7 linked regions of the Homo sapiens genome follow. The protein of the gene in region 6 purifies or fractionates together with the protein of the main gene of each other region. This does not show direct contact. Each region holds a gene or a part of one and is shown on either strand. Other genes may lie near its edges.

The links.
Region 1: the proteins of NCKAP1 (region 6) and NHS purify together in Homo sapiens (affinity purification with mass spectrometry; 2 studies listed by BioGRID and IntAct, with this or other methods). This does not show direct contact.
Region 2: the proteins of NCKAP1 (region 6) and CAMK2D purify together in Homo sapiens (co-immunoprecipitation; one large-scale study listed by IntAct). This does not show direct contact.
Region 3: the proteins of NCKAP1 (region 6) and NHSL2 purify together in Homo sapiens (affinity purification with mass spectrometry; 3 studies listed by BioGRID and IntAct, with this or other methods). This does not show direct contact.
Region 4: the proteins of NCKAP1 (region 6) and PCDH10 purify together in Homo sapiens (pull-down; one large-scale study listed by IntAct). This does not show direct contact.
Region 5: the proteins of NCKAP1 (region 6) and ABL2 purify together in Homo sapiens (affinity purification with mass spectrometry; 2 studies listed by BioGRID and IntAct, with this or other methods). This does not show direct contact.
Region 7: the proteins of NCKAP1 (region 6) and NHSL1 purify together in Homo sapiens (affinity purification with mass spectrometry; 2 studies listed by BioGRID and IntAct, with this or other methods). This does not show direct contact.

What each region holds. Positions count from the first base shown.
Region 1 is NC_000023.11:17,373,478-17,378,320, reverse strand, and holds the start of NHS (actin remodeling regulator NHS), read right to left. Parts: upstream 3,122-4,843; 5' UTR 2,564-3,121; coding exon 1,999-2,563; intron 1-1,998. UniProt on the Homo sapiens protein: May function in cell morphology by maintaining the integrity of the circumferential actin ring and controlling lamellipod formation. Involved in the regulation eye, tooth, brain and craniofacial development.
Region 2 is NC_000004.12:113,516,756-113,520,812, forward strand, and holds part of CAMK2D (calcium/calmodulin-dependent protein kinase type II subunit delta), read right to left. Parts: intron 903-4,057; coding exon 808-902; intron 1-807. UniProt on the Homo sapiens protein: Calcium/calmodulin-dependent protein kinase involved in the regulation of Ca(2+) homeostatis and excitation-contraction coupling (ECC) in heart by targeting ion channels, transporters and accessory proteins involved in Ca(2+) influx into the myocyte, Ca(2+) release from the sarcoplasmic reticulum (SR), SR Ca(2+) uptake and Na(+) and K(+) channel transport.
Region 3 is NC_000023.11:72,144,525-72,148,581, forward strand, and holds part of NHSL2 (NHS-like protein 2), read left to right. Parts: 3' UTR 1-4,057.
Region 4 is NC_000004.12:133,162,347-133,166,403, reverse strand, and holds part of PCDH10 (protocadherin-10 isoform 1 precursor), read right to left. Parts: intron 3,428-4,057; coding exon 3,122-3,427; intron 1-3,121.
Region 5 is NC_000001.11:179,110,842-179,114,898, forward strand, and holds part of ABL2 (tyrosine-protein kinase ABL2), read right to left. Parts: coding exon 4,037-4,057; intron 1,558-4,036; coding exon 1,468-1,557; intron 5-1,467; coding exon of another isoform or gene 1-4. UniProt on the Homo sapiens protein: Non-receptor tyrosine-protein kinase that plays an ABL1-overlapping role in key processes linked to cell growth and survival such as cytoskeleton remodeling in response to extracellular stimuli, cell motility and adhesion and receptor endocytosis.
Region 6 is NC_000002.12:182,923,458-182,927,514, forward strand, and holds part of NCKAP1 (nck-associated protein 1), read right to left. Parts: intron 3,449-4,057; coding exon 3,359-3,448; intron 2,362-3,358; coding exon 2,245-2,361; 3' UTR 1-2,244. UniProt on the Homo sapiens protein: Part of the WAVE complex that regulates lamellipodia formation. The WAVE complex regulates actin filament reorganization via its interaction with the Arp2/3 complex. Actin remodeling activity is regulated by RAC1.
Region 7 is NC_000006.12:138,429,909-138,433,965, reverse strand, and holds part of NHSL1 (NHS-like protein 1), read left to right. Parts: intron 1-285; coding exon 286-3,573; intron 3,574-4,057.

The sequences.
Region 1 (4,843 bases), on a different chromosome or scaffold from region 6:
CAAATATGTATAGAGTATATATTCACCAACTATATGCACACACTCAAGATCCTCTCTTATCTCTACTAACTATTAGTTTGTACCCCAAACAGTTAAAAGGACTTGAAAGAACTCTGACACGTTCCAGGTACATAACTGCCCACTGCTGCATCTAAAGAGAGAAAGAAGTGGGCACATTCTGCTCTGGCAGTGAGTTTCATTCGCGTGAAATCTAACTTAAGGAGAGGTGTGTCTCACACACACACACACACACACACACACGGGAAATGTATGCACCACTCAACAGTCTGCAAAACTTCCCTCCAGTTCTTTTGAAGTGAAATCACCACTCCCACAACCGCACTCCCCAGATACCTGCGCTGTTGAAAGTGAAGGGCCTGTCCCTGCTGTGTGGTTTGGGGTAAAAAGGAGGCAGGATTAAAGCGCTCATTTCAAGTCCCAAAAGTAAAATACGACTTGGCCTACGGCAGTCCTAATTCTTTCCAGAACTCATCCCCGGAATTGCCCTTTTAAACAACCAGTCATTAACCCAACTCCGGGTCTTTTATAGCTGCGAAAACCGATCGAGCACATCATTTATTCATTACGCTTATTACTATTGTTATTGCAGAAAAGCAGTGAATTCCCGGGACGGGGTTCAAAGGGTTTTTCGGAGGAGGAGGGGAAGAGGGAGAGAACACGCGGGCGGGCAGGGACCGCTGGGAGGCTGAGCTGGGCTGTGGGGCAGAGGTGCCCGGAAATCCCCAGGGAAGGATGCCTCCAAAGCGCCTCCGCCCCGCGCGCTCCTAGGCCACTGCGCACCGGCGCAGCTGCGGCAGCAACCTAGGAAGCTTCTTACGTAAGTCAGAGCCGCTGACATCACCTTCGCCGCGAGCGTCGCAGCCTGACTAGGCGCCAAAGGACCGTCGCGCCAACCCAGCGCCCCTGTCTACCTCCTGGGTCGTTCCTAAATGATTCTGCCGTCGCCAGATTTGGACGATCCGGAGCCAAGGGGACCGCCCTTGGAAGGGAGATGACATAGAATGACTATTTATTGGGAGCCCTTGGGTGTCGTAAAAGCGAAGTCAACGGACAGCAAAGACGCCCAGGGGTCTCCCAGACTTCCTTCCTCGTCGTTTCCCTGCAGCCCGCCTAGCAGACTAGTTCATACCTAAGTCCACGTGCCAGTAAATTTGGGCGACAGTGCACCGGGGAGGAGGAAGATAGTCTGTGGGATCCTCTGCGGGCAGATGGCACAGAGCCATTTAGTAGGAACCCTGGGCTGTTCAGAGCAGAAAAGATGCCCAGGGGTCTCCTCCATCTCCCCGGGGCCCCTGACACTCCCACCCTCATCTCTCCCTGACCCTCCCCGCGGCCCCTCCGGGCCACAAGGGTTTTCGGCAGAAGCACTACGAAGTTCAGTCTAGGAGGCGAGCAGCGCCACGCTACGTCGCACACGAGGGCAAGGCACAAGTTCGGAGCTCGGGGCAGCACCTGAGGTCACAGCGAGTGACGAAACAGCCGCGGTGCTGCAGCAGTCTCAAAAGAACACTCACTACTCCTGGAACCCCCAACCCTGAACATGCATGGTGTGGGCTACAGGGCTCAGGGCTGGGCTTCTGGAAACCACAGGAGTTGCAACCCTCCTCCCTACGCCCCGTGAAGGACGTGAAAGGCGAGCCCCGGTGGTGAAGGACAGACCCTCTCTGCCTCCTGTGCTCCCCATAAACGCTCCCTTTCTGCTCCTTCTCAGCCCACGCTGCCTGCGACTTCAGAGGTCGCCCTTTTAACTTTCCACCGTCCACGTCTGCATCACTGAATCGGGGTCCAGCCCAGCCACTCAGCCCCAGGAGGATTGGGGTGGGTCCCAGGGGATGGGAAGGGTGGGAAGGCGAGAGTAGTAAGGTGCAAGCTGCAACCGGAGCGGCGCCGCGGGGCTGGGATTGCCGCTGCTGGGGAGGGCGCGAGGGTGCGGCGCAGAAACCCATAGCCTGGCGGGCGGACGGCGCGGGTACTCACGCACTGCCTCCTGCTTAGGGTCAAGCGTGCTGAGGACGCGCTGCACGCCGCCGAGCTTGCCCTGCAGCGCCCAGACGCGGCGGTGGGTGAGCTGGATGTCGCTCTCGAGCTCCTGGAAGAGGCTGCAAGCGTGCCGGGCCACGTCCGAGAGCTGCCGGAGGACACGGGCCAGAGCGGCGTTGCTGACCGCGCATAGGTCCAGCATGAGCAGCACGGCCGCCGCCGCCGCCGCCGAGGACGCCTCGCCGGCTGCGGGCGCCGCCTCCGGGATCCCCGCCGTGCTCTCCTCGCCAGCCACGGACGCCTCTCCGTGCGGCGGCTGAGTCTGGTCGGCCGGCGCGGGCAGTGGCGGCGGCGGCGGTGGCAGCCCTGAAGGTGCAGGGACGGCGCGGGCTGGCTCCTCTGGCCCTGGCGCCTCGACCTCGTCCAGGTCCCTCCGGCCCGGCGGCTGCAAGGGCGGCGGCGGCTCAGCGCTGCCTCCGCTCGCGTCCACTGCTGGGCCGGGCGCAGGGCGCCGCTGCCTGCACAGCCATTGCGGCTCCACGATCCGCTTGGCGAAAGGCATCCCGCGCAGCCAGGCGGCGACTTTCTGGTCTCCTCCAAGCGCCCCTGTGAGCTGGAGACCGGGCGCGCCCACCTGAGCAGGGAGGGGGCAGGAGTCCGGCAAAAGCGCGATCTGGCAGTCCGGATACGCAGGGGGCTTCTCTGCTCACCTTGCCTCCTCTTCCCCGCCCTCTCCCTAGCAAATCAGTCCAGCCAGTCCTCCTTTGGGTGCACCGTTCCCTGGGGAGGATGACAAGCGCTCCGCACAGAAATTTAGGGGTGCGCCTGGTCTCTTCTCACTTGCTTCCAACCAGGGTCGACTGGCTCAACTCCATCGTTTCTGTGCTCGCCGTCGCCACCCCGGCCACTGCCGTCGCCGCCGCCTATATAAATGGGCGTGCGTGTGTCTGTGTGTGTGTGGGTGAGTGGGTGGGTGGGTGTGAGTGTGTGCGCGCGCCTCAGTTTGAAAGTACCCCGGCGCAGGCCTCTCCCCGCGCGCCCCTCGGCCGCTCCGGGGAGCGATTGCGCCCGGGATCTCTCTCCCTGGCTGGGCGGGGAGGAGGTTTCGGAAAGGCGCTCTGAAAACCCGGAGAGAGGAATCTGCCTCCAGCCCGGGCGCAGGAGGCCGCGCGGGGGTGACGGGGCGGACGCAGGGCGGGGGAGGCCGGGGCGAGGGGGGCGCAGCGCCCTGTGCGGCCGCTGGGAGTCACTGGTGGCCTCGCCGTGCTGGGCGCGTTCAGGCGCAAAGACACTTCCTCACATCCAAGGGGTTGGAATTGAGACTGTCAGCGTGGTGGGGGCGGGGAGTCCTCAAGTTGGGAGTAGGGGTGTGGGCAGTAAGCGCAGAGGGAAGAGGGTGGGGTATTGAGGATGCGGCAGATTTGGCGTGTTGGAGCAAGTTTTTCGCCGAATTCCAGCTCTGTACAAGACCTTTGGGTTCTTACAGGGAAAACTGGGCTGCTCCTTGGAGATCCCCGGGCTCTATGAACGCAAGGAGACAACTGGGGAGGGCAAAGGGCGTAGGCGCATCTCCATGTGGCCAGAGCAGCCAGAGTGCTGTTTATACCCCTTCCCAGGCATCACGTGGCCCCCTGTTTTGGGCACGGGCTCTATAGAATATCGTGAATGAGACCCAAACCACCAATGAGCAAAATCCCCAGAAAACTGCTTACGAAACTCATTGCACGTTGGGTGAGATAAACGGCATTACCTCCTCGTCACCCTACTGTGCTGATCATACACAGGATTTTTAAAGTTCTCCATCAGAGAGATGATGATTTACAGAAGAAGGGAAAGTTTTCCCCTTCAGTTAACTGAAAGGTATAATTTCTAAAAAGGCATGCATTTTCGATTGCAGCAGGCTGCAGGCTGTATGCCGTCAGTAAAAAGAGTTTGGGAAATGTTAATAAAACACGTGCTTTCATGCCTCCAAAAAGTATACTGTAAAAATATTTTTTATTTTAAAGCCACAAGCCAGATCTTGGGAATGCAGCCTCTTTTCGTGTTTCTAAAGAGAACATGGAAAAAATATGTTTTATGGCAACAATAAAGTCCTCCAGACCTGCGGTGGTGTCTCCTCTCCTCCCTCTAAAGGCGGGAGAGGGAGGAGGCTCCAACAGTCAGCACTTTGGACTGGCCCACGCTTTGGTTTTAAAGGCTTCAACAGACCCTTGTCTTATTCTACAAAACAAAAAAAAAAAAACAAAAAAAAACCAAAATTTTCGGCAAGGACATATCCTTGTTCATAAAAGATCCAGGCTGAGGCTTTGGGGGTAAAGGGCCATGATGTCTGCAAAGTACACATAAATGTTTCAGTAACAACAAGAAGAAGAATGATGATAATAAAGATGTGTATGTATGAAGGGAGAAAAAAACAAAATATGGCAAAATGTTCAAAATAGTCTAGGTTAAGGGCATATCAGGGTTCATTGTACATTTCTTGCAACTTTAAATTTGGTTTTGTTTCCAAATAAAAAATGAAAGAAAAGAATATTTTGGAACAAGGTCTTTTAAGGTTTGTTTTTTATCTCACAAATCTGAAAAGCGTTGAGCTAGCTGTTTTTAAATTGAGCTTGACTTTTTAATACGTTCAAAATTCTGAACATGAGTTCTGCTGGGTAGGCAAGCCAGACACTTCTCCCTAAACACATGGAAGCATGGAGAACAATGAGGGATATTAAAGGCATCTGGTTAGCAAGCCTTGTGGCAACAGGCTGCCCTGCCTCTCACTCTCCCTTACCTAGCACTGTCCTATTAATAGCAAGGGTGCCAGTGGAGCGGGCCCATCTGAGCATTGACAGGG
Region 2 (4,057 bases), on a different chromosome or scaffold from region 6:
ATTGCTACTCTGTAGTTACTCTACTTAATAACACATGGAAAGCATGCCCAGACCCTGCACATGGATTTCCATAGGGCTGTATGAGGGGAAACCTGAGAAAGTGGTAAATCATATTTACAAGAATATGTATCAAAGGAGAGCAAATTATATCATAAACACAAAGTTAAGCCATAAAGAGAAAGTAGATAAAGCCTTCCTCTTCAGATTCTGAACTTAATTTATGAATGTATATATATATATCTACTTTCAAATATTCTAATTATAAATTAAATATATTATTAGAATTATGATTTTCAAATTTTTCAATTGTGAAACTCATTCTTCAAATGAAAGCTTGCATAGTATCCCAAACAGTACAAAAACAAAAAACAAAACCCAGAAACTGGTATAGTGGGATAATGTTCTATTTGATATGTGATCACAGCAAAATATTGTTGGTATATAATATAAAATTATGTGATAGATATTTGAGAATATAATTCAACTAAACAGGCAATAATCATTTCTATAGCAGAAATATTTTAATTTTTATGTTTTTAAAATGCACTAAGGTCCAAATATTTTGACAAAGTTCTTCCTCAGAGACTTCACATGGCTTTTCTTTCAATCTTAGGAGACAGTGAGTTAAAAGGAAACGTAAACTGGATACAAATGCTGCATTTCTTTCTCCCTTTCCTTAAGAGAGAGGGAAATAATATGAGAAAGTGGTAAAAATTATGGTTAAAAGAAAAATGAAAAGATCTGGCTCTTGGTCAACAGGCAAAAGACAAACCTTCATCTAAAGTGATATAAATAGTTATTACATACATCATAAGCTCCAGCCTTGATCTGCTGATAGAGTCTGTGTTGGTCTTCATCCCAGAAGGGTGGATACCCCACAAGTAGAATATAGAGAATGACACCTGGAGGAGAATATAATGTTAACACAATTTAAGTCATATAGACAACAGTAAATTAAATGTGGCTGATCCACAATGATATTAAGCCGTAGTTGTTAAAACAGAGAAAACTGGATTGTAGGAAAACTTCAGAAAGATGTGTTATGATCTAGTCTAGAGCAGTCTCTGGAGGGTGAATGCTTCTCCTCCTATGCTCCAGAACTCTGACAATGTGTCAGTCAATGCATGCATCAAAGAATTCTAAAGAGGCATGGCAGGGCAACATTCATTTAGGGCAACATTCTTTGGCCCCCCTGAACTCTTGTCTATAGAGGGTCTTACTGCATTCTTATCTATATAGAGACTATGATTTTAGTCACTGTGAGGTTGAAGTTTAAAAACTAAGCATGTTTTTTATTTCCTCATACTTGTTTTGATGGTCATTGGGACATTTTGTTGAGTGATGGTGTCCTGGTTATAAATCCACGTTCTAAATAACCATAGTCCCTGCAAATGTGGGTACCCCATAGAGACAAAACCCTTTTCTTTTCAGTAATCTTAGTCTTCAAATACTTCAAGCCTTCTCAGTCAAACAACTAAACCAACAAGACTACAGAAGAATATATATTATGGGAGAGGAAAAAGGGAGAGAAGGGAGAAATTCCACAGAAAATTCAAAGTAATAATAACAATAAACACATGGCTGTAATAAAATTTGCTAAAATTTTTCACAAACATAATTATTTATAAATTAACCAAAATCTAATTTCACTTTTAAAATTAAAAAAATTCTGTATTCACAGTTTGTAAATTTCCCTGAAATCATATCTGCAGTCTAAATGTCTGAGATTGTTTTGATACAGTGGTCTTCTCTGTCATCAAATATCTCTCCTGCCACTTTTCACGTATTTTATTGCCTTGCTTAAGGCCTTTGGTTTCTTTCCTAGCTCATTATCCTGGAGGAAGGCAGTCATTCCTCTGACCTCTCCTGTTTGCTTTTTTCTTGCTATGTTTCCTTAAGCCTAGGAAACCTGAGAAGAAGAGTAAGACAGGTGACACTTTGCCAGGTGTACCCTGAGACTTATTTTTTCCCTTATCCAAGGTGGTCTCTTGGTCTCTGTACCTAGGAGATCTATCCCTGCTCCTGTCCAGCAGTCTGGACATCTTTATACAATAGACACTGTAGCAGCTGAAATGGTTTTTAAGCAATGGTTTAATCATCTTAGAATTTTATAGCCTGCTTCAGGAAGATACAGTTCATAAGCAGATTTTTTAAGTCATGTGAATCAATACAAGGATAAAAAATTTTAAACAACATTCTTAAGGAAAAAAAAAAGACCATGAAGAAAACCACAGTATATTGGTACCTCACCTTCATGACATAAAAATAATTTTTCCATACATCTAATGAAAATGATGATAGTAATGATGATGATGAGTGTTTCTCTTTGTGTTCTCAGGAGGCAAGTAGAAAAAAAGCTGTACCTGAGTAGTTTTAGCCCTCAGCTATATAAGGTTCCAGGAGGTTAAGAAGAAAATTTGCTTTGTAATAGTGATAGTTTCCATTGAATATGAACATTTTCCTAATACACATCTGGAATTAGGCTGTTATAGAATTATGAAATAGTGGCTCAACTGAGACATTTAGCATTCTCAACATAGGCTGTTTGTCCTTATGAATTATGTCTGCAGTTGACAGTTGATGTGGTGCTTCTCTGGGAAGAGGAAGCTCACAGAGGGCTCATTCCATGAGAAAAGCAGGCAATATGTAATAGATGCCCACAATTTAGCTGTTTGATGGAGGAGTGTTTACAAAAACATGTACTTTAAATAAAATAATAGCATAAATGTGAAGATTAAAAAAAACACTTTTAGGCCCAAAGACTTAAAAAAAAAACATATTATAGGTGCTATTGACTAGCCTGATGTGAAATTGTCAGTGCCTATTTAAATAAACACCGTTTTGTAAGTTTACTTCAACTTGATTATTAAACAAGCATCTAAAACCTTTCTGAGTTATGCTATTTTGTAGTTCTATTTTCTGAATGTATAGAACAAGTATGAGACTCATGGCATAAGGATAATGTAATACTAATAAATTTTATTGTAGATAACATTTATTCAGAGTTATGTGTGCTTTAATGCATTATCTCATTTAATCCTTGTATAATGCTATGAGGTAGATATTGTTATTATCTGCATTATATTATAGATGAAGAAACAGGCTGAGAGATTAAGTAACTGTTTCAACCACAAGCAGGACAGACATAATGATGCTCTAAACATTCCCTGCAGCCACTTTTTCTTTATCTATGAACTTTAGTAGGAATGATAATATAAAATTTAAAACTTTGTGTTGTCTAACTGAGAGACCTTGACATACTAGCAAAGATGTCCATTTGGTCCTATCTTAAATGTTCCTTGCAGCTACTTTTTCCTTTAGCTAGGTCCTCTAAACAAATGCTTATTTTAAAAGTGTTTGTTGTTCTAGGCCGGGCGTGGTGGCTCACACCTGTAATCCAAGCACTTTGGGAGGCCAAAACGGGCAAATCACCTGAGGTCAGGTGATCACGACCAGCCTGGCCAACATGGTGAAACCCTGTCTCTACTAAAAATACAAAAAAATTAACCGGGCATGGTGGCACATGCCTTTAGTCTCAGCTACTCGGGAGGCTGAGGCAGGAGAATCGCTTCAACTCAGGAGGTGGAGGTTGCAGTGAGCCAAGGTCGTGCCACTGAATTCTACCAGCCTAGGTGACAGAGTCTTGTGACTCTGCCTCAAAAATAAAAATAAAATAAAATAAAATAAAAGTGTTTGTTGTTCTAATTGAGTTCTTGCCTCATGAGTAAGCCCAATTTATCTTTTTAATAAACCTAAATTTTACCTTTTTTCTATGTCAGAGAAAAAAGAAAGGAAAAAATCACTAGCTCTTTTTCTTTGCCCATATACCTAAAGTACTAAAATCATTAAAAGTCAATGAAGAAGTCTTTTTTTTGCGAGACCACTTGAGGGGTGATGATGTGACCTCCAAATGTTGGGTATCTCTCATGACACTAGCAGCCTTTTATGATTACTGCCTACATAATTTTACTGGGGTTGCAAAATAATGATGGCTGGGCATGGTGGCTCACACCTATAATCCCAGCACTTTGGGAGGCTGATGTAGGAGGATCACTTG
Region 3 (4,057 bases), on a different chromosome or scaffold from region 6:
AAGGATAATGGAAAGTAAGTGCATCTTGCCCCCCACCAGTCAATTCAGATCGTGGTTTGTGGTTGGTTTGGTTTTGTTTAAAGGAAGTCCGACTCTGTTCCAAAAACCAAGAACATATAAACTAAAAGGATCTATCCAAAATCTAAAAGGCAGTCTTGCCAGTTGCTATGGCCCATAATGCACACACACACACACACACACACACACACACACACACACACAAAAGGGCTACTTTTTGCCATTTAGGTTCTGTGTTTGACCAGCTTTCAATTAACCTTGCTGGGGGAGAGCATAAGAACCTGGGTAAATGGCATACTGAAAGAGCTTCAGAATAATCATTGCGACCCCTCCCTGCCCCCACCCCCCACGAAGCTTATAGGCACTAACTATTCTTGTCAGCTCAATTTTCTAAGCAGAGCAAGAGCAGTGATTCATTTGATTTTTGTATGCCTGATTTCTGGGAGGTTGGGGAGGAAGACAAAGCACTGAGCAAAGAAAACCTGCTGACCAATGATGGAAAGTTAATTGTCTACTGTCTTCAAGAGGCAAAAAGAACAGTTGAATGAAATTGTAGCCTGCTTCACAAAGAGAGTTCCCCAGCCCCTTCCTACTTCACCCCTCACCCAATAGATTCAATGGTCAACCTCCTGGAGGATGCAGTAAGGTTCCAGAGACAAGCAGATCTCAACTTTGATAGGTCGTATTGCCCAATGAGAAGCCACCTTTTAGCTCAACTGCCCACACTCCAGCTGGACAGAGCAGCTGAAAAACCACACTAAGTACTGAGAAAACTTGGGCCTCTCACAAGAGAAGCCCTAGGCCTAGGCCCTTTGTTGTTATAGTTCTGAATCTGAGACTTCTGGAAACAGGCCAGGCCCACCAACTCCCTTGCAACCAGCACTTCGACACTTAAAATAATAAAACAGCTAGGCTCAGTTGCTTTTGAAAGTACTAGAACTACTTGGTGTGAAGTTCTTAACCAAATTCCAAATTCCAGGGATTTTGCCCAAAATAAAATCAATTCATCCCTGGCCTCAGTTTATATATGAATGCCACATTTGTCTGCTCCAGACTTAGAATTCCAAAAAACAGACATTTTCCTCTGTAGTAAATGAAGGAGCGTTTGTGCTTTTGCTTAGCAAAAATGAAAGGACACCAGGGTCTCCTTGGGAACCATTATGACTGGTTGAACGTTAAAGCTGAGTATGGGACTCACATAGTATAGGCCTTGTTACTTCTGTGGACTTTTCTGGAAGTTTCTTGTTTACTACTTCTAATGGGTTTTGCCTCTCCCCTCACCTTGCTACCTCTGGAGGTTTTCCCAAAAGATTCTGAACCTGAATTCTCAGACACCTTGATGTTTGTCAGTTACCTTTAGTCTTGTTTTCCTCTACAATACTCTATATGCCTGGAATTTTTAGAATATCTTCTACATCATCACTGTGGCCCACGCAGTGGTGTTCCCATTAGCACAAGAGGATTTGGGGCAGAAATCATATGGTCAGAGAGAACATTTAAGACCGGAAGTATTCATTTAATTTTTTAAATTAATTTTTTGTAAAGATGGGGGTTTTGCTATGTTGCCCACGCTGGTCTTGAACTCCTGAGCTCAAGCGATCCTCTCGCCTTGGCCTCCCAAAGTGCTGGGATTAAAGGAGTAAGCCACTGCACCTGGCCTCATTTAATATTTTGCAACAGGTAGACGTCCCAAATAAACAACCAAACTGTAAAATTTCTACTAATCACTAATTAACAGAACACAAAGCATCTTCCCCACTCCTAACACTCAACCTCTCTCCTACCTTTGATTATCATAACTCCACTCTCTCTCCCACCCAGGCACTTACCACAATGTTTGCTGCCTTCTGCACCTACGCTGCTGAGACTGGAGAAGAGAGGCTGAAAGCCCCTCTCAGAAAGGCTTGCAGAGAACCCACCACTACTACAATTACTAGTATAAATAATAATGATAATAATTTTTGAAGGTGGAATAGAGAAGAGATTTGAGTGAAATGAAGTTGGCCCTAGGAGCTCAGCTTCCATTTCAAGTCGTCCCTATCCTCTTTTTTCCTCCCCATTCCAGTTAGTAGCAACAGATGGCTCTGCTAGCCTGACTTTGATCTAGTCACCATCCCCAGGAGCGGAGGTTAATTGTTAACCAAGGATGCTTTGCATTTGGTGGGTAGTCAGTACATGTTTTTGAGGGTAGTTATTCTTGGTACAATAGCAAGCTTTGCTGGTGTCTCCTCTCCTTATCCTGTACTACTTGGCCTGCCTCAGCTCCTGACTGGGCCTCCCCCACCAGCCCCAACTTATTCCTCAGCCCCAACTTATCCCTCAGCCCCAAATCCCATGAACTGCATCCCTAGCACAACAACTCACCCATAAAGGAAGTGAGACAACAGGAAGCAAAATAATTAATGTTAGCTTAATGACCACAAACTGACCAGTTGATCTGGATAAATTACCTTGAACGTGCAAAGACAGAGGAGATCCTACCAGGCTCTCCTAACAAGCACTGCACCTGACATCCAGTGTAACTATCTGGACAACACAGACCCGATTGCAGTCTCTCTGTACCTGTCAGTCTGAGCAGATCTGTCCACGCACCTGCCCTCTTCCTCATCAATGAACAAGTTGGGAAAAAGATGAGTTCATGCTCAGTGCTCTGTTCCTCACTCGTTCCACCTTCCATTATCAAGTCTGTGACACAATGGTGAGCTTTCGCTTTAATATGATTTGCTAGGGCCAGGACTAGGGTGAGGTGAGCGAGGCACCTAGGGCGTAAAATTCAAAGAGGTGCCCGCTCTCAGGGCCATGCAAGTGCCTTACCCTCGTCCCAGCCCTGTGATTTGCACTCTTTAAAGTAATATCAGTTTATCTTCTTCCTATGAACAAGTATAGTCCTTCTGATTTGGGGTCGGGGGTTAACTCCCTATCTCTTGTTGCACCAAATATTTTATTGCTACCTATTTTTCCATTGCTATAAGTCTTTGTGTGCCTATACATTAAAGAATCTTTAATAGTGTTAATATCGGAAAACATAGTTGATTTCTAAGTAATATGCTCCAGGTGGCAAGTTAACACCCATTTCAGCAGGGATGCTCCCAAGGCCAGCCCTTCAACAAAAGAGTGACTGAGTTGACGGTCTGTCACCAGGATCCTCCCTCTCCTCTTTCTGCTCCATTCTCCTAAACCTTGCTTCCCAGCACCAACTCTCTTCAGTGCCTCCTACTTCCTTCTCCTCCTAAGAAAAACCTGCTCTCAGGAAAGGGATAAATTCATTTACTTTGAGATTATAAGGCTTAATGCTACCTCTTTTGAGGGTCAGTTGCATTTTAACAAGGGAAAAGCCTTAAGCCAATGGAATGAAGTTCTACTTGCAGAATGTTAGGCATCAACTAGTTGTAGAAGTGTATTTTTCACCATGGAAAGGCCAAATTCCCTGACGCCTAACTCCAGAATATAGAAAATATCTTAATCGCCTGGAATCATTTGAGTTACTAGCTGATGGTCAATTAAATTGTCCTGATATCCAATGCTATTCAATATGGTTACTACCAAGGGACTCTCAGAAATGGCTACTAAAAGCCACTGAGAAGGCCTAGATCATTCATATTGTACATTGACATTTTTACATAAATGGAATTAATACTACTTACCATTTGAGTAAAGAACACAAGGAATTGAAGAGTCTGTGAAAATATGTCCTGTTTGTGAAAGGTGAAACTGTCCAATCCATGTCCAATCAATGTCAGTCGTCCAGTATTGGTGGTGATTATTAAACTTATTGGAGGTACAACTTTACCTCCAATAAGCTTACCTTTACAAGCTTCTGCTTTCCCTGCTTCATCTCTGTTATGGGCTATCAGTCCAGCTTGGTGTGAAAATGAGACTATATCTATACCACAGCCCCCAATCCTTTCAAAGGCTTTGCATGTATTTCAGCTACAAGTGACAAGGATATTAGGGATTTAAAAGGATAAGAGAGTGGGAAAGATGTATAAGGAAGTGCCTTTGTCAAAAGGCAGCAAAAAGTATAATGATATAAACATAA
Region 4 (4,057 bases), on a different chromosome or scaffold from region 6:
ATTTTAAAACTCCAGAAAATATTTTCTTTCATTTTAACATGATTATTTAAAGTGCTGTAGGCAATTATTAATTTTAATTAAAAATGAAATGGTATTTTTGTGTTTTTAATTATGCTAATGAAAATTAAAGGTAAAGTAAAACTGAAATTCATTAACATTTAAGGTAAATCTAAATACGGCATTTCTGAATATATGGCCATGTTCTACCTGTTTAAATTTATTTACTCAATCTTTGAGTGTATCCCTTTGCTCCATATCAACTTAGCAAACTACAACATTATAGGAAAAATAAGAGAAAGCAAGCTCAGAAAGTGCTCATGAATAACTCAGCAAGTATTGAATGATGTGTTCAAAATTATTCCTGATTTTTAAAAAGTCTCCTTTTATTAAATACATCATGTATACTCTTCATGGGTCTTTTGTTAATACATTAAAATAAAAAGAAATGTAAGTGTAAGCATATTTTTAAGAACATGAAGTACATTATTTAATGTTTGCATCCATCTATTTTTGTGTAAAAGTTGTTTTCTTGCAGTTTTTAGTTTTAACTTTAGCAATCGGAGGTATAGAAATCAAAAGTTATTTGTACTGACATTGATCTCTTTTGTATTTTTAAGCATATCGTCATTTCCTTGTCATTATTGTATAAATGACAGTGACAGTCTCATTAGGCTTTTTAGAGCTTTACAAAAACATAACTAAATATACTGCTATTTTTCCTAACATCAAAATGTACATTATATTCATTATGAAACTGCATATTTAGCAAAAAAACTCTACAACTTTAATAATTATTCAAACATTCTGATTAAAAGCAAGTAGTGTCAATTTTTAGCTTTTTTAATTATGCAAGGGACTTACTTTAGACTTAGAAGATGACACTATTTCTATTCTGAATGAAAAAGGACACAAGTATCAAAAACTATCACCATATGAATTTGAGGGGCAAAATGGTCAGGAATAGTTTTGTTTTAGAGTTTGTATTATCAGACTAACTATAAATTTTTTATGATTATTAAGTCAGAGTCATGGTGTAATTTTAAATATAATTGGATGACTCTAAGATGACATTAAATACTAAAAGTTAAATTAAAAAAAAAAACCAGTCTAGACATGATTAAAGTCGTATGAAGAACTAAGAAGAGCAGAAGTGAAAACAACAAAATAGCTATTCTTCTGCAAATTTTCCACCACAGGTCACACGTCAACCCAAACCCTAAATTTTGAGCCGTGTGAACTGGCTAAAACAGATTAGGGAAAAAAACTACAATTAAAAACTAACTCATTCCAACATATGTATATTCATATATATATGAATATATGTATGTATATATATATGTGTATATATATGAATATATGTTGGAATGTGTTAGTGCATATATATACACATATATATGAATATATGTGTATATATATGAATATATGTATATAATGAATATATGTGTATATATATGAATATATATATAAAATGAGCAAATAATTAAAATTTTCCTGGTGAAATAATAGATGCATTCTTTTGATTTTTAGCAACACACATAACTGTTAATAAATTTCATAATCCCTGAATCAGATTTCTAAATGAAAGACCAGATTCTTAAGAAATAGAAAAATTTGCATTAAAATATATGCAGCATTAATATTTTAATAATAAAAATTGTTTCCATTAGTCTTATTAATAAAAAAATCCAGTCAGTAAAGAAAAGACATCTGTAAATGTTAAAAATTCCAGGTCTATGTGTAAGTGTAATTTCACCAAGATTAGTACTCACTAAGAGCAAAAGAGGGCAAGTTGATTTTCCCACTATATTTGAAGTAGATTTACCTGTTATTATATGGTAAAAGCAAATATTTGTATTTATTTAGAAATGCAAATTTTTATTAATCTGAATCATATACCCTTCACTTTTTGCCTTGAAATGATTAATAATGTATTTCTATAATGTACATTCTTAGTTTAAGTGAAACAGTAGTTAAATATGCTGTTTAAAATTTGGAAAAGTTTTACTTTTAATAATAAATAAAATTTTGAATCCAGAATTCAATTTCAGAGGCAAAGATCGCATCATGTTCCTCACTTATTAAAGTTTGATTTTAGGCTATTTTAATTCACTAGCATGTGTGGATTTGTGAGTTAAACTTAAGACATTAGCATCCAAATTGCATTTTAGACATCTCAATATTTCCTGTCTTTAAGTATTTGTTCTCTCTTTGTATAACTTTAAAAAAATAAAGCAAAACAAATGATTTTTTGGTTCTGAAGTGCTAAAGTGGTACATCATGCTGGGGTATTTGTGGTTCTGAGTAATTTGAAAAGCTGAAAACAATCCTTCATAAAACACCACCTATTGTTGTCACTACAATGTATGCATCTAATAAAAGACCATTCCTTTAAGCATATAACACTTGTCTATTTGCTTTATCTATGTCCAGGTTAATAGCCACAACCTCAATGCATTCAATCTTTGCTTTTCACGTTATACTTCATAAAGGCTAAAATAAATATTCCTCTGTTTTTTTCCTTTAAGTTTTTAAAAACTCTTTTACTTTTCAATTTCATCAGTCATAAAAGAAATGACATATCTACAATCTGTCTCATCTTTCGTTCTAGCTTATAAGTTCCACAGTTATTTTTGTAGTAGATGAAATAAAACATTACGTAGGATGGATCTGCTATGTAAGTCATCTTTTGATTGAGTTGTTATGAGTTTTATCTTTATCAAACATTATTTATGTAGTTTGACCAAGATATTGAATTGCCAGTAATATTTATCCATTAACTAAAAGAAAAATATTTCTATTTCTCATTACCAAGATCCTCAAAGGAAATATATTATGGAATCTCAAAGCATTTTTATTGTTTGCAATGATTATATAAAATAATCAATTTGGAGAATATAGTCCTATATTTTGAAAGAGCTCAGTGCAATTATTAATGTCTCAATGTTAGAGGAATCTATTATTTTAAATAAAGAATATTGCCCTAAAGTGCTGCCAGCATCCAGTCACTTTTATCTTTATTTCTTAAAAAAACCTGAACTCCATTTTTACCAAAAAGAGTGGAATGTTGAACTTTATCTCCTCAAAGGGAACACTTTAACAGAGCCCTTTGTGTAATACTTACTCAAATATGGTGGTTTGTAAGGCGCTCGCGTATTAGTCAGCAGTCCATCCAGCTCCTTCCTCTCCAGAGTGCTGTGAAGGGCCTTCTCTTTGCCAAAGGTGGAAAAGGACCGCTCTGCCCCAGGCTGGGCTTCTGGAGTTTCAAACACCTCAGTGTCTGGAACAGAGTCCATGCCAGGAACATGCAGATTGCTGCGATAATCAGCAGCCTGGCGTCCATCAGAAGGGACAAAAGAAGGCATCCAGCACCGATCTGAGTGGCCCAGAGCTTTACATTCCTCAGTGCAATTGGAGAAGAGATCCATACCTGTAAGCAGAAAACAGAAACTACGGATGTAGTCTTCACCAACATGACCAGTTACTTAGCAGTGTAAGATTACAGGTAGCATAAAGGGTGACAAGTGAAGTTGTCTTAACAAATTTTTCCTGGCTTATCCTGACAGGAACCAAATATTATTTTGTCTCATTTTTGTTCATCACTTTAAAAAGGGAAAATGATCTGCAAATGTAAAAGATAAGACTCTTCTGGCAAAGAGGCCTCTGAGATAAATGTTTCTAAACTACTTAGGGTATTGGGCAAAATATTGGCTCTAAACAATTTAAATAACTGGGAAATGGTGAATAAAAATGGTAGACATCTTTTAAAAAATCTCTTGTGAAGTTCATAACAGATAAAACAACAAGGTGTAAAAGCTTTAAAATCCATGATCCCTAACAATGATAAATATTTGACTTTTTTCCTTAAAAACAAATAACATAAGAAATATGCCAAGCACCAAAAATGATATTTAGATTATGAAATTTGAATATGAAGCAGAAAGTGAAATTCAACAGAAATGTGGCATACACAGAGGAAAATCAGTAAAAAACAAGAATAAAACACAATTTCATTAGCAGCTAAAAGCATATTTTCCGAGGTTTCTAGGAAATGACTTCC
Region 5 (4,057 bases), on a different chromosome or scaffold from region 6:
AGAACTGGTGGATCACAGGGTATACGTGTATTCAGGTTTATTAGGCCCTGCCAACCTGTCCCCAAATAGCGATACTATTTTGCATGAAAGCTGTGGTTACTCTGCATGCTTGCTAAAATTTGATGTTATTATTTTTGGCTTTTTTTTTTTTTTTTTTTTGCAGATGGAGTCTCACCCTGTTGCCCAGGCTGGAGTGCAATGGCGTGATCTCAGCACACTGCAACCTCTGCCTCCGATGTTCAAACGATTCTCCTGTCTCAGCCTCCCAAATAGCTGGGATTACAGGAGCCCGCCACCACACCCAGCTATTCTTTGTATTTTCAGTAGAGATGGGGTTTCACCATGTTGGCCAGGCTGGTCTCGAACTCCGGAACTTGTGATCCACCCGCCTCAGCCTCCCAAAGTGCTGGGATTACAGGTGTGAACCACAGTGCTCAGTCTTTTTTTTTTTTTTTTTTTTTTGACAGGGAGTCTTGCTCTGTTGCCCAGGCTAAAGTGCAGAGGTGCGATCTCAGCTCACTGCAACTTCCGTCTCCCGGGTTCAAGTGATTCTCCTGCCTCAGCCTCCCAAGTAGCTGGGATTACAGGCGCCTGCCATCACGCCTGGCTAGTTTTTGTATTTTTAGTAGAGACGGGGTTTCACCATGTTGGCCACGCTAGTCTCCAACTGCTGACCCCAACTGATCCACCTACCTCAGCCTCCCAAAGTGCTGGGATTGCAGGTGTGAGCTGCTGTGCCTGCCAAGCCTGATTTTAATTTTAGCCTTTTTGGTAGGCTGTGGATTGGTATCTCAGTGTGGTTTTATTTTGTATTTCTCTATGATGAGTAATGTTAAACATGGTTATTGGACATATGGATATCCTCGTTTACTAAGTTAAAGTTAACCTTTAACTACTTTCCATGTCAATATATCCAAGAAGGCCGGGCGCTGTGGCTCACACATGTAATCCCAGCACTTTGGGAGGCTGAAGTGGGTGGATCACTTAAGGTTAAGAGTTCGAGAGCAGTCTGGCCAACATGGCGAAACCCCATCTCTACTAAAAATAACAAAAATTAGCCAGGTGTGGTAGCAGGTGCCTGCAATCCCAGCTACTCAGGAGGCTGAGGCACAAGAATTGCTTGAACTTGGGAGGTGGAGGTTGCAGTGAGCTGACATCGCACCACTGCACTCCAGCCTGGGTGATAGAGTGAGACTCCATCTCAAAAAAAAAAAAGTATATATATGAATATCATTTTAAATATTCAGCTATATGGTTGTAATAATTTACAGTCCACTAGATATATAAGTTGTTCATAATTTCTCACTATTATAAACTATACTCTGATGCAATGTCCTTGTAGTTAAAAGTTGAAACAGAGTCTCAAACTCCACAAAAGTTGATCATTTTTGAAATGTAATTACCATTATCACCACCACCACCACTACCCAGAATTAGTCACCAACAGTAAATCCAACAGATTCTCACCTTCAGAAATGCTGGAGTCATGGAACATGGTTTCAAAAGCTTGGTGTGTTTCAGCAAAAGAGGGCCTATCGGCAGGGCTCCACTTCCAGCCTATGTAACAGAAGAAAAAATATTAAAAACTCCTTGCAGAAATTCAATATCCAGTGGTGTATCTAATAATGAGTTCTATGCATCATGATGCACACTTATTAAAGTACAGTTACAGCATGTTCACAATGATAGCAACATAGCCACTTCTCAGCTCTAGACTCAGAGGTATAATGAACCCACTTTCTAAATTCCTTTTTTCTTTTTCTTTGAGACAGGGTCTTGCTTTGTCACCCAGGCTGGAGTGCAGCTGGCATGATCTCAACTCACTGCAGCCTTGACCTCCTGGGTTCAAACAATCCTCCTGCCTCAGCTCCCCAAGTAGCTGGGACTATGGGTGTGCAACACCACGCCCAGCTAATTTTTTTTTTTTTTTTGAGACGGAATCTAACTCTGTCACCCAGGCTGGAGTGCAGTGGCGCGATCTCGGTTCACTGCAACCTCTGCCTCCTGGGTTCAAGTGATTCTCCAGCCTCAGCCTCACGATTTGCTGGGGCTACAGGCGCACGCCACCACGTCCGGCTAATTTTTGTATTTTTAGTAGACAGGGGTTTCGCCATGTTGGCCATGCTGGTCTCGAACCCCTGACCTCAGGTGATCCACCCGCCTCAGCCTCCCAAAGCGCTGGGATTACAGGCTTGAGCCACTGCACCCAGCCAAAGTGAGCACACACAGCGATCTCAAGCTACTGTATTTTTTATGTAGATGGGATTTTGCCACATTGCTCAGGTTGCTTTTGAACTCCTGAGCTCAAGCAATCTGCTCACTTCGGCCTCCCAAACTGCTAGAATTACAGGTGTGAGCCACTGCACCTGGCCATTAACCCACTTTCTAAGGCTGGTGCTTCGATTTAGCCTCAGCTCCTATTCCCTCTAATAAAAGGATGAGGAGAAACAAGGAGATGTTTTAGAAAATGGCAAGTTTTCTTCCACTTGAAAATAAAAGAAGTAAAACCTGTCTTCAAACTCAGCCTAACCATATAATCAACTGTATACATTCAGAAATATAAAAGGATATCAAAAAGGAGGATCTCAGAGTTCATTTTTGACAAAGTGCAACAGAGAACGTCAATGTTCAATGAGGAAACAACACAGACTTATGTTCAAACACAACTGCAATTAGGACCAGGCCTGGTGGCCCACATCTGTAATCCCAGCATTTTGGGAGACTGAGTCGGGCAGATCACTTGAGACCAGGAGTTCGAGACCAGCCTGGCCAACATGGTGAAACCTTGTCTCTACTAAAAGTACAGGCCGGGTGCTGTGGCTCAAGCCTGTAATCCCAGCACTTTGGGAGGCCGAGGCAGGCGGATCACGAGGTCAGGAGATGGAGACCATCCTGGCTAACACGGTGAAACCCCGTCTCTACTAAAAAATGCAAAAAAAATTAGCCGGGCGTGGTGGCGGCCGGCGCCTATAGTCCCAGCTACTCAGGAGGCTGAGGCAGGAGAATGGCATCAACCCGAGAGGTGGAGCTTGCAGTGAGCCGAGATCGCGCCACTGCACTCCAGCCTGGGCGACAGAGCGAGACTCCGTCTCAAAAAATAAATAAATAAATAAATAAAAATACAAAAATTAGGCCGGGCGTGGTGGCTCATGCCTGTAATCCCAGCACTTTGGGAGGCTAAGGCGGGCGCATCACTTGAGGTTAGGAGTTCAAGACCAGCCTGGCCAACATGCCAAAACCCCATCTCTACCAAAAATACAAAAATTAGCCAGGCGTGGTGGCAGGTGCCTGTAATCCCAGCAACTTGGGAGGCTGAGGCAGGAGAATCGCTTGAACCTGGGGGACGGAGGTTGCAAAGATTGTGCCACTGCACTCCAGCATGGGCAACATAGTGAGAGTCCGTCTCAAAAAAAAAAAAATTAGCTGGGCATGGTGTGCGTGCCTGTGGTTCCAGCTACTGAGGGGCTGAGGCATGAGAATCACTTGAACCCATGAGGTAGAGGTTTCAGTGAGCCGAAATCACGTCACTGAGCCGAAATCACGTCACTGCACTCCAGCCTGGGCAACAAAGCAAGAGTGTTTGAAAAACAACAACACAAATAAACAAACAAACAAAACCCTGCAATTTAATCCACTATTCACTTTCCTACTTTTTCATCTGCAAGCAATCGGATGCTTCTGTTTATCTACACAGAGGTTATTTTTATGCATTCTTCATAGTCTTTAGCAATCATTTTTATCTAGTTGAAAACGGCCCTCCCCACCTTAATCTCTAAACTCAATTTCTTATCTTATTAAATATGCAAATGTCTCTGAGAAACTGGGTCAATATTTGGGCCATAACAACTATGCTTAGGATTCCAATAAGATTCAATGGTATATGATATGACAACTGGCTGATCAATGATAAACTCTTTAAATGTCATGAGGCTGGATTCAATCTAACAACACTGAGAGGAGAAATGTTTCTAATTTTGTTAACTATTCTGAACTGCTAGCTTATGCCTTCAAAATTAAAACATGCAAAAATACTCACATGCTCTCATAAGTTCATAAA
Region 6 (4,057 bases):
TGTCAGGGTTTTGCCATGTTGGCCAGGCTGGTGTTGAACTCCTGACCTCAAGTGATCCATCCGCCTTGGCCTCCCAAAGTGCTGAAATAGGCGTGTGCCACTACGCCTGGCCATGAAATTGTTAAATTAGTTATGGTATCTATAAAGGTATTAAAAAGAATATTAAAGACATTTTTTCTACTACTGAGTGAAATAAGCAGATTACAGGCCAGTATGTATGGTATGATCACATTAATGTAGAGAAAACAACAAAAATAGTATGTTGTTGTGTAAGTTTAGAAGAAAATAAAACAAACAAGATATTAAAAATAGTAGTTGTCAATTTACTTTTAACTTTTTCCTCCAAGTTACCTTTGCCACGCCTCCTCCCCCGCCTTTGCTGTATGAGAAAAAATTTGGACAAAAACTTCAGGTGACTATGAGGAGCGATTTTTTTCTCAGCCTAGCAGTGGTAGAGAATGCCTTATTTTCATCCTTATGCCCTTTCACATATGATTCCAAAGTGTACATATCCAAATTCCTACTTTACCTCTCCAGAGATCACTGCCAACAAAGTTATTACCTCTCTAAGATCCTAATATTTCAAAACAAACGGCATTAAATCTTAGTTTTGACTGCTCACTGTGTAAATCAGACTATTTCAGGTCTGAACTATGCCATTTTAAAATTTCCCTTTTTAAAAAATCTTTATGGAACAAGTACAATTTTTCGACAGATAGTGACAACTACTCCCTACTTTAAATATAGGCTGGACAAATCATACACAAAATAATAGCATAATCTCATAGTACTTCAATTTCATTCTACTCTCTATGTTTGAAGAAAGAAAAACATTATAACTGAGTTCACAGCAGCCTTCTTTTATCTTAACACAAGTTACCAGTGTATACATAAGAAGCTGTGAACAGAAGCTCTTTATGATATTCATATACAAAGCTGCTGAGAAACAGCCTCAACAATGCCAATCAAAGAGCAAAACATTGGGTTAGTTTTCAAACTAAATGAGCTGCTTTGCCCTCCATGCCAACTATTAAGCAATAGGCCCTTTTATGTCTTTCCCATTCATTACTGACTAATGCAGCAGTTCTCAACATTCTCACTAGTCCCATGATCACTCAATTTTTTTTCCCTATTCTTTTAAATAACTCTATTTGGTTACAGATAAAATGAGCAAGTTGACAGCATACAAGTTTTCTTTAAGTTCTTAATTTTTAAGAAGTATTGTGTAATTTTATTTTCTAATTTTGGTATTTTTTTCAATAAAATGTTTTTTAAAACATTTAAACAAATCATATAATAGCTGACCTGGTATCGAATGCTGTACTTAGACATTCCTAAACCATTATTTTTTATATTTCAAACTAAGTTTAAACAAAAACTTTATTATTATTGAACGAATATCCAAGGATCTTAAAGAAATCAATCGAAGTGTGATACAGTCTAGTGTTTATTTTATGTTATGGCAGGTACACTTGAATTTCAAAAATTTAAAACATATATAAAAAGTGGTTAGGGACTAACATTTGTATCAACAGTTGATAAATGTCTAAGATTGTTTATTATACAGCAGGGTACAATGGTAGTGCTAATGCCAACAGGGCACCATGGAAGTTAGTCTAAAAATTATCGCTAGGCTTTATACAAGCAACAACATATGCTGCTGCTCTTAGAATTTTGGGAAATGATCTGCTTCTAATACTAAGCAGTTCTTTAACATTTTTAAATGTTATACAGTGTTACAGTATTTAGTTTGGCAAATGTTTCAAAATAAAGTAGAAATGTATTCATAACATCACAGAAATGCACATCCAATGTTGTTTTCAATAAGAACCATAGGTACAGATCAGAACTCTTCCCTATATGAAATAATTTACACACAGATGAATACTATAATATCACTATCTAAAATAATCACTAAATACAGTTCTTTTTCAGAAATAAACAAGCAAAGATTTTTTTCATTATCAAATATCAAAAACATGTTGATAATGTATGTTTTTCAAATAAATGATACTTTAAAATTATAGGAATAATCTCAGTGAATTCAGTGAATGTGCAACCTAAATCAACCAAGTATACTGTAGTACAACCATATTAAGAAACCAATGATCAGAAAATACAACCGTATGAAAGAAATTTATAATCCACAAAACTTTTTCAGGTCTTAAGGTAAAATAGTTCCACAGTCTACAGGTAAAACCAAGGCAACAAAAATGCGTGCTTATCTTGATTAAGTAGGTAATTTTATGCAGAAGATGTAACACTTTGTTTGTAGACAGCATGGTATGCATTTCTCAGCAAGACATAAGGAAAACAAGATTCCAAAAGATCCATTGTAAGGAATGGAGATTCTTGTACAATCTGTAAAATTCAAAAAATCCATCAAAACAAGTTATTTATAACTTGTTTATAAACAAAAATCATAAGTTATTTATAATGGGAACATTTATTGACAACCAGTAAGGCATAACTTCTATATTGTTCTTATTAGCAATAGACACATATTATTTTCCTTTTACTTAATCTAAAATGTAAATGTGCCACAGTGAATGTATATCAAACTGTTTAAAAAGAGCTACTTTTCAATTAAATTTATTTAATCAACAGGAATATATTGAGCACTTTCATTTTCCTCACTGATATACTAGAAATAAAAGACAATACAAAAATATTTTTTTTTTGTACTATCAACTCTACCTGGCAATCAAAGACTAAGCTAGGAAGCAAAACCAAACATAAGACCGACTATAATGAAATGGAAAGCTGTAAATTCTGTAAGAATTCAAAACAGAAGAAAGATTAATGTAGGCCAAAGTAATCAAGAAAGACTATCTGGAAAAAGATTTGAGCTGTGGGATGTGCTAAGTCATTAGGATAAATCCAATTTCTGCAGGTAAGGAAAATAACTCTAAGTGGGGAAAGAGCCACGTGGTAGAAACAAGCAAGAGCTGGTTCACAGATACTGCAGAGAGGGAAGTGACTAGGCACAGAGAATTACAGAAAATTACGAGAAATGGGCAGAATAGAGTTAGAATGTAGAAAACTCAGAAAACTGGAAGAGAGGTGACACCAATACACTAGAAAAATACAAGGCCTGAGTGTTTTCCAACAGGTTGAAAAACTGTTCATAAAAGAATACCCACAGTTAATGCTAACCTTTGATTGTTATCTTCTGATATTACCGAAATGATAAAATATGAGTGATGTCAGTCTTCTCTGCAAATTTTAGAAAGGTGTGGCTTACGTGAAGTGAACAAAAGGGATCAAAAAAAGTATTCAATGACTAAGATGCCAAGAAAAGATTCTCAGGAACGACTGGAACTTTTTTATTGTTAGTAAAAATTAAAATGAGACTTACCATATCTAGCAGTAAATAAACAGATTCTCTATTTCTTGTTGTAGTTTTATCTGTCTCCTGGCCAATTTTCAGTAGACTGGAGGATGCAAGCTTAAAAGTATACATACACATAAAGTGAGTTTGTTAATAAAAGGTTCATCGGTTACTTATTTTAGGTATGTTTCAACTTCCAACACATTTCAATCATTCAGTGCTAAATATAAAATAATGAGCAATTAAATAAGATGAGCTTAGATAGCCTACATTCAAGCAGTAATTTAGAGAGTAATTAAGGCACAAAGAGACACTAACATAATAAATGTAATCAAATATTCTTATTGGTCTTTAAAACTGATTTTTTCAGAACAAGTCTGCTTTTTAAAATGATTCAAATTATTTTCTCTTATCCCATCCCATTATCTATACTGACTATATTTCTTAGTTCCCAAGGAAGAAGACAGTTTCACACTGGATTTGACTTCACAGAAACACTGTAAGATTAAGACATTAAACCCTGAGTGAAGGAATTATTTGCAAATGGAAAGAAACACTTAAAATTTTTAATAGTGTTTTCCTTGAAATAGAAGTTATTTTCTCCTCAAGTTAGTACTATATTTGCATTTGTAATTTAAAAATTATTTTTTAAAAAAGCTGACAGGATTTATAACTGAAAAAGAAGTAAATGTTCTAGAGTTCAGTATGCCATGGTATATCTTTCGT
Region 7 (4,057 bases), on a different chromosome or scaffold from region 6:
TTGGCAGCCTTGATCTTGAAGGGATACCCTGAGAATTCCATACGCAGCACTCAAGCCATAGGAGGATTGGAGGTACAAATTAAGAGAAGTACCTGACATTCATGACAATAATTTTCATTTTAGAGCTATCAGTAACTTTTTAAATGTACTTAGATACCTACAGGAGAAAGGAAATTAAATCAAATAGAAAAATTTTTTTAAAATTCTGTCAGAGGGGTGAGGGTACACGTGATGAACTATGGATTTTATTTTCAGGTAACAAGCCTCTTTCTGCTTTATCTCCAGCATCAGGCACTGGCCAAGATGATGCTGATGGCCACTCAGTGTACACCCCTGATCACTACTCTACACTAGGAAGGTTCAATAGCTGTCGGTCTGCTGGGCAGCGCTCAGAAACCAGGGACTCCAGCTGTCAGACGGAGGATGTGAAGGTCGTACCACCTTCCATGAGGAGAATCAGGGCACAGAAGGGGCAAGGCATTGCTGCCCAGATGGGCCACTTCTCAGGTTCCTCTGGCAACATGTCTGTGCTGAGCGATTCTGCAGGGATCGTATTCCCTTCCCGCCTTGACAGTGATGCTGGCTTCCATAGTCTTCCGCGTTCTGGAGCAAGGGCAAACATTCAGTCCCTTGAGCCGAGGCTGGGTGCCCTCGGCCCTGCAGGAGACATGAATGGCACTTTCCTCTACCAGAGAGGTCACCCACAAGCAGATGAAAACTTAGGCCATTTAGGAGGTGCCTCAGGGACTGGAACACTTTTGAGACCCAAATCCCAGGAGTTGAGACACTTCGAGAGTGAAAATATAATGAGCCCAGCGTGTGTGGTTTCTCCTCATGCAACCTACTCCACCAGCATCATCCCAAATGCCACACTGTCTTCCTCTTCCGAGGTCATCGCTATTCCCACTGCTCAGAGTGCGGGACAGCGGGAAAGTAAAAGTTCTGGCTCATCACATGCAAGGATAAAATCCAGAGACCACCTCATCTCCAGGCATGCTGTGAAAGGTGATCCTCAGTCTCCCGGTCGCCACTGGAATGAGGGCCATGCCACCATTCTTTCACAGGACTTAGACCCTCATTCCCCTGGTGAACCCGCACTGTTGTCCCTCTGTGACTCAGCCGTCCCTCTAAATGCTCCAGCAAATAGGGAGAATGGGTCCCAAGCTATGCCGTATAATTGTAGAAACAACCTGGCCTTCCCAGCCCACCCCCAAGATGTGGATGGCAAGAGTGAATCTAGTTATTCAGGGGGCGGAGGGCACAGCAGCTCGGAGCCCTGGGAATACAAATCCTCAGGTAATGGAAGGGCATCCCCCCTGAAGCCGCATTTAGCAACTCCTGGCTATTCCACTCCCACAAGTAACATGAGCAGCTGCAGTTTGGACCAAACGTCCAACAAAGAGGATGCTGGGTCGCTGTATTCTGAGGACCACGATGGCTACTGTGCATCTGTGCACACTGACTCTGGACATGGATCTGGGAATCTGTGCAATAGCAGTGATGGCTTTGGGAACCCCAGGCACAGCGTGATCAATGTTTTTGTTGGAAGAGCTCAGAAAAACCAAGGGGACCGGTCCAATTACCAGGATAAATCCCTATCAAGAAACATCTCTTTGAAGAAAGCAAAGAAGCCTCCCCTGCCACCCTCCCGGACAGACTCCCTCCGCAGGATTCCCAAGAAGAGCAGCCAGTGCAACGGGCAGGTGCTCAACGAGAGCCTGATCGCCACACTCCAGCACTCGCTGCAGCTGAGCCTCCCAGGCAAGAGTGGCAGCTCGCCCTCCCAGAGCCCCTGCAGTGACTTGGAAGAGCCCTGGCTGCCCCGCTCCCGGAGCCAGAGCACAGTTAGTGCTGGCAGCAGCATGACTTCCGCCACCACCCCCAATGTCTACTCCCTGTGCGGGGCCACGCCATCGCAGAGTGACACAAGCAGCGTCAAGTCAGAGTACACGGACCCCTGGGGTTATTACATTGACTACACGGGCATGCAGGAAGATCCGGGGAACCCGGCAGGGGGCTGTTCAACCAGCAGTGGGGTGCCCACTGGGAACGGGCCAGTCCGCCATGTCCAAGAAGGGTCCAGAGCCACAATGCCCCAAGTGCCCGGTGGTTCAGTCAAACCAAAGATCATGTCACCAGAGAAGTCACACAGAGTCATTTCTCCATCCAGTGGGTATTCCAGCCAGTCGAATACACCCACAGCACTCACCCCTGTGCCTGTGTTTTTAAAATCAGTGTCACCAGCAAACGGGAAGGGGAAGCCCAAGCCCAAGGTACCAGAAAGGAAGTCCTCTCTGATATCTTCAGTATCCATTTCCTCATCGTCCACTTCTCTTTCTTCTAGTACTTCTACTGAAGGAAGTGGCACTATGAAGAAGCTGGATCCAGCCGTGGGCTCTCCCCCGGCTCCTCCTCCTCCTCCTGTTCCCTCTCCTCCATTCCCTTGTCCTGCAGACAGGTCTCCTTTCCTTCCTCCCCCACCTCCTGTCACAGATTGCTCCCAGGGCTCTCCTCTGCCTCACTCTCCTGTGTTCCCCCCTCCGCCGCCAGAAGCTCTCATTCCTTTCTGCTCCCCACCTGATTGGTGCCTTTCTCCTCCCCGCCCTGCACTGAGCCCCATTCTTCCAGATTCACCTGTGTCCTTGCCATTGCCCCCACCTCTCTTACCTTCCTCGGAACCCCCACCTGCCCCACCTCTTGACCCCAAATTCATGAAAGACACCAGGCCGCCTTTCACAAATTCTGGCCAGCCAGAATCCTCCCGGGGATCCTTGAGGCCGCCTTCTACCAAGGAGGAGACCAGCAGGCCCCCCATGCCCCTGATAACCACGGAAGCATTGCAGATGGTGCAGTTGAGGCCCGTGAGAAAGAACTCAGGCGCTGAGGCGGCACAGTTGTCTGAACGAACAGCTCAGGAACAACGAACTCCAGTTGCTCCACAGTACCACTTAAAGCCATCTGCTTTCCTGAAATCCCGAAATAGCACAAATGAAATGGAGAGTGAAAGCCAGCCTGCCTCTGTGACAAGCTCGCTTCCGACGCCTGCCAAGAGCTCGAGTCAGGGTGACCATGGCAGTGCGGCTGAGCGTGGTGGCCCTGTGAGCCGCAGCCCTGGAGCTCCAAGCGCTGGGGAGGCAGAGGCTCGGCCCAGCCCCAGCACCACCCCACTCCCAGACTCTTCACCCAGCAGGAAGCCACCCCCCATTTCCAAGAAGCCCAAACTGTTCCTGGTGGTACCACCTCCGCAGAAAGATTTTGCAGTGGAGCCCGCAGAGAACGTGAGCGAAGCCCTCCGAGCTGTGCCCAGCCCCACGACGGGAGAGGAGGGCTCTGTGCACAGCAGGGAGGCAAAAGAGAGTTCTGCAGCCCAAGCTGGCTCTCATGCCACGCACCCTGGCACCTCGGTTCTTGAGGGAGGAGCTGCAGGATCCATGTCTCCCAGCAGAGTGGAAGCCAATGTCCCCATGGTTCAGCCTGATGTCTCACCAGCCCCCAAGCAGGAGGAGCCAGCCGAGAACAGTGCGGATACTGGGGGCGATGGGGAGAGCTGCCTATCTCAACAGGACGGAGCAGGTGAGTCTGGCTTCCTGGCTTCTCTCTCCTGTGCCCTCTGCCCATATGCAGCTGAACCAGATAGGGTTGTTGAATGCTCACACGTGGAAAGAACCCAGGTAGATCAGATTCCTGTTAAAGCTAGCAGTATGTAGGCTTCCTGTGTTAAAACACAGATTAAGTTACCAACTTTGCATTTTGTTATTATTTTTAAAATCTAGACCTAAAGGCATGGCAGAAAATAGGGGGATGGAGATGATCTGCAGCAGGCTGGGTATTAAATAGCAATGGGTAACACCTCCCTTCCGAAGAGCCGCGCAAAGAAACGTTGCAACAAAATTTAAGAGAGATGCCATGGGCGTTCCATACTTTAACAAAGAATGAGCTCTGGCTCTCAGGCTAGTGTCATTTCCTCCCTTCTTTGTAAACTATCAAACTACAGACCCACGGCATCTCCCTGTGGTTCTCACATTGTCGGGAATGGCAGGGAAGCAGCATATTTAGA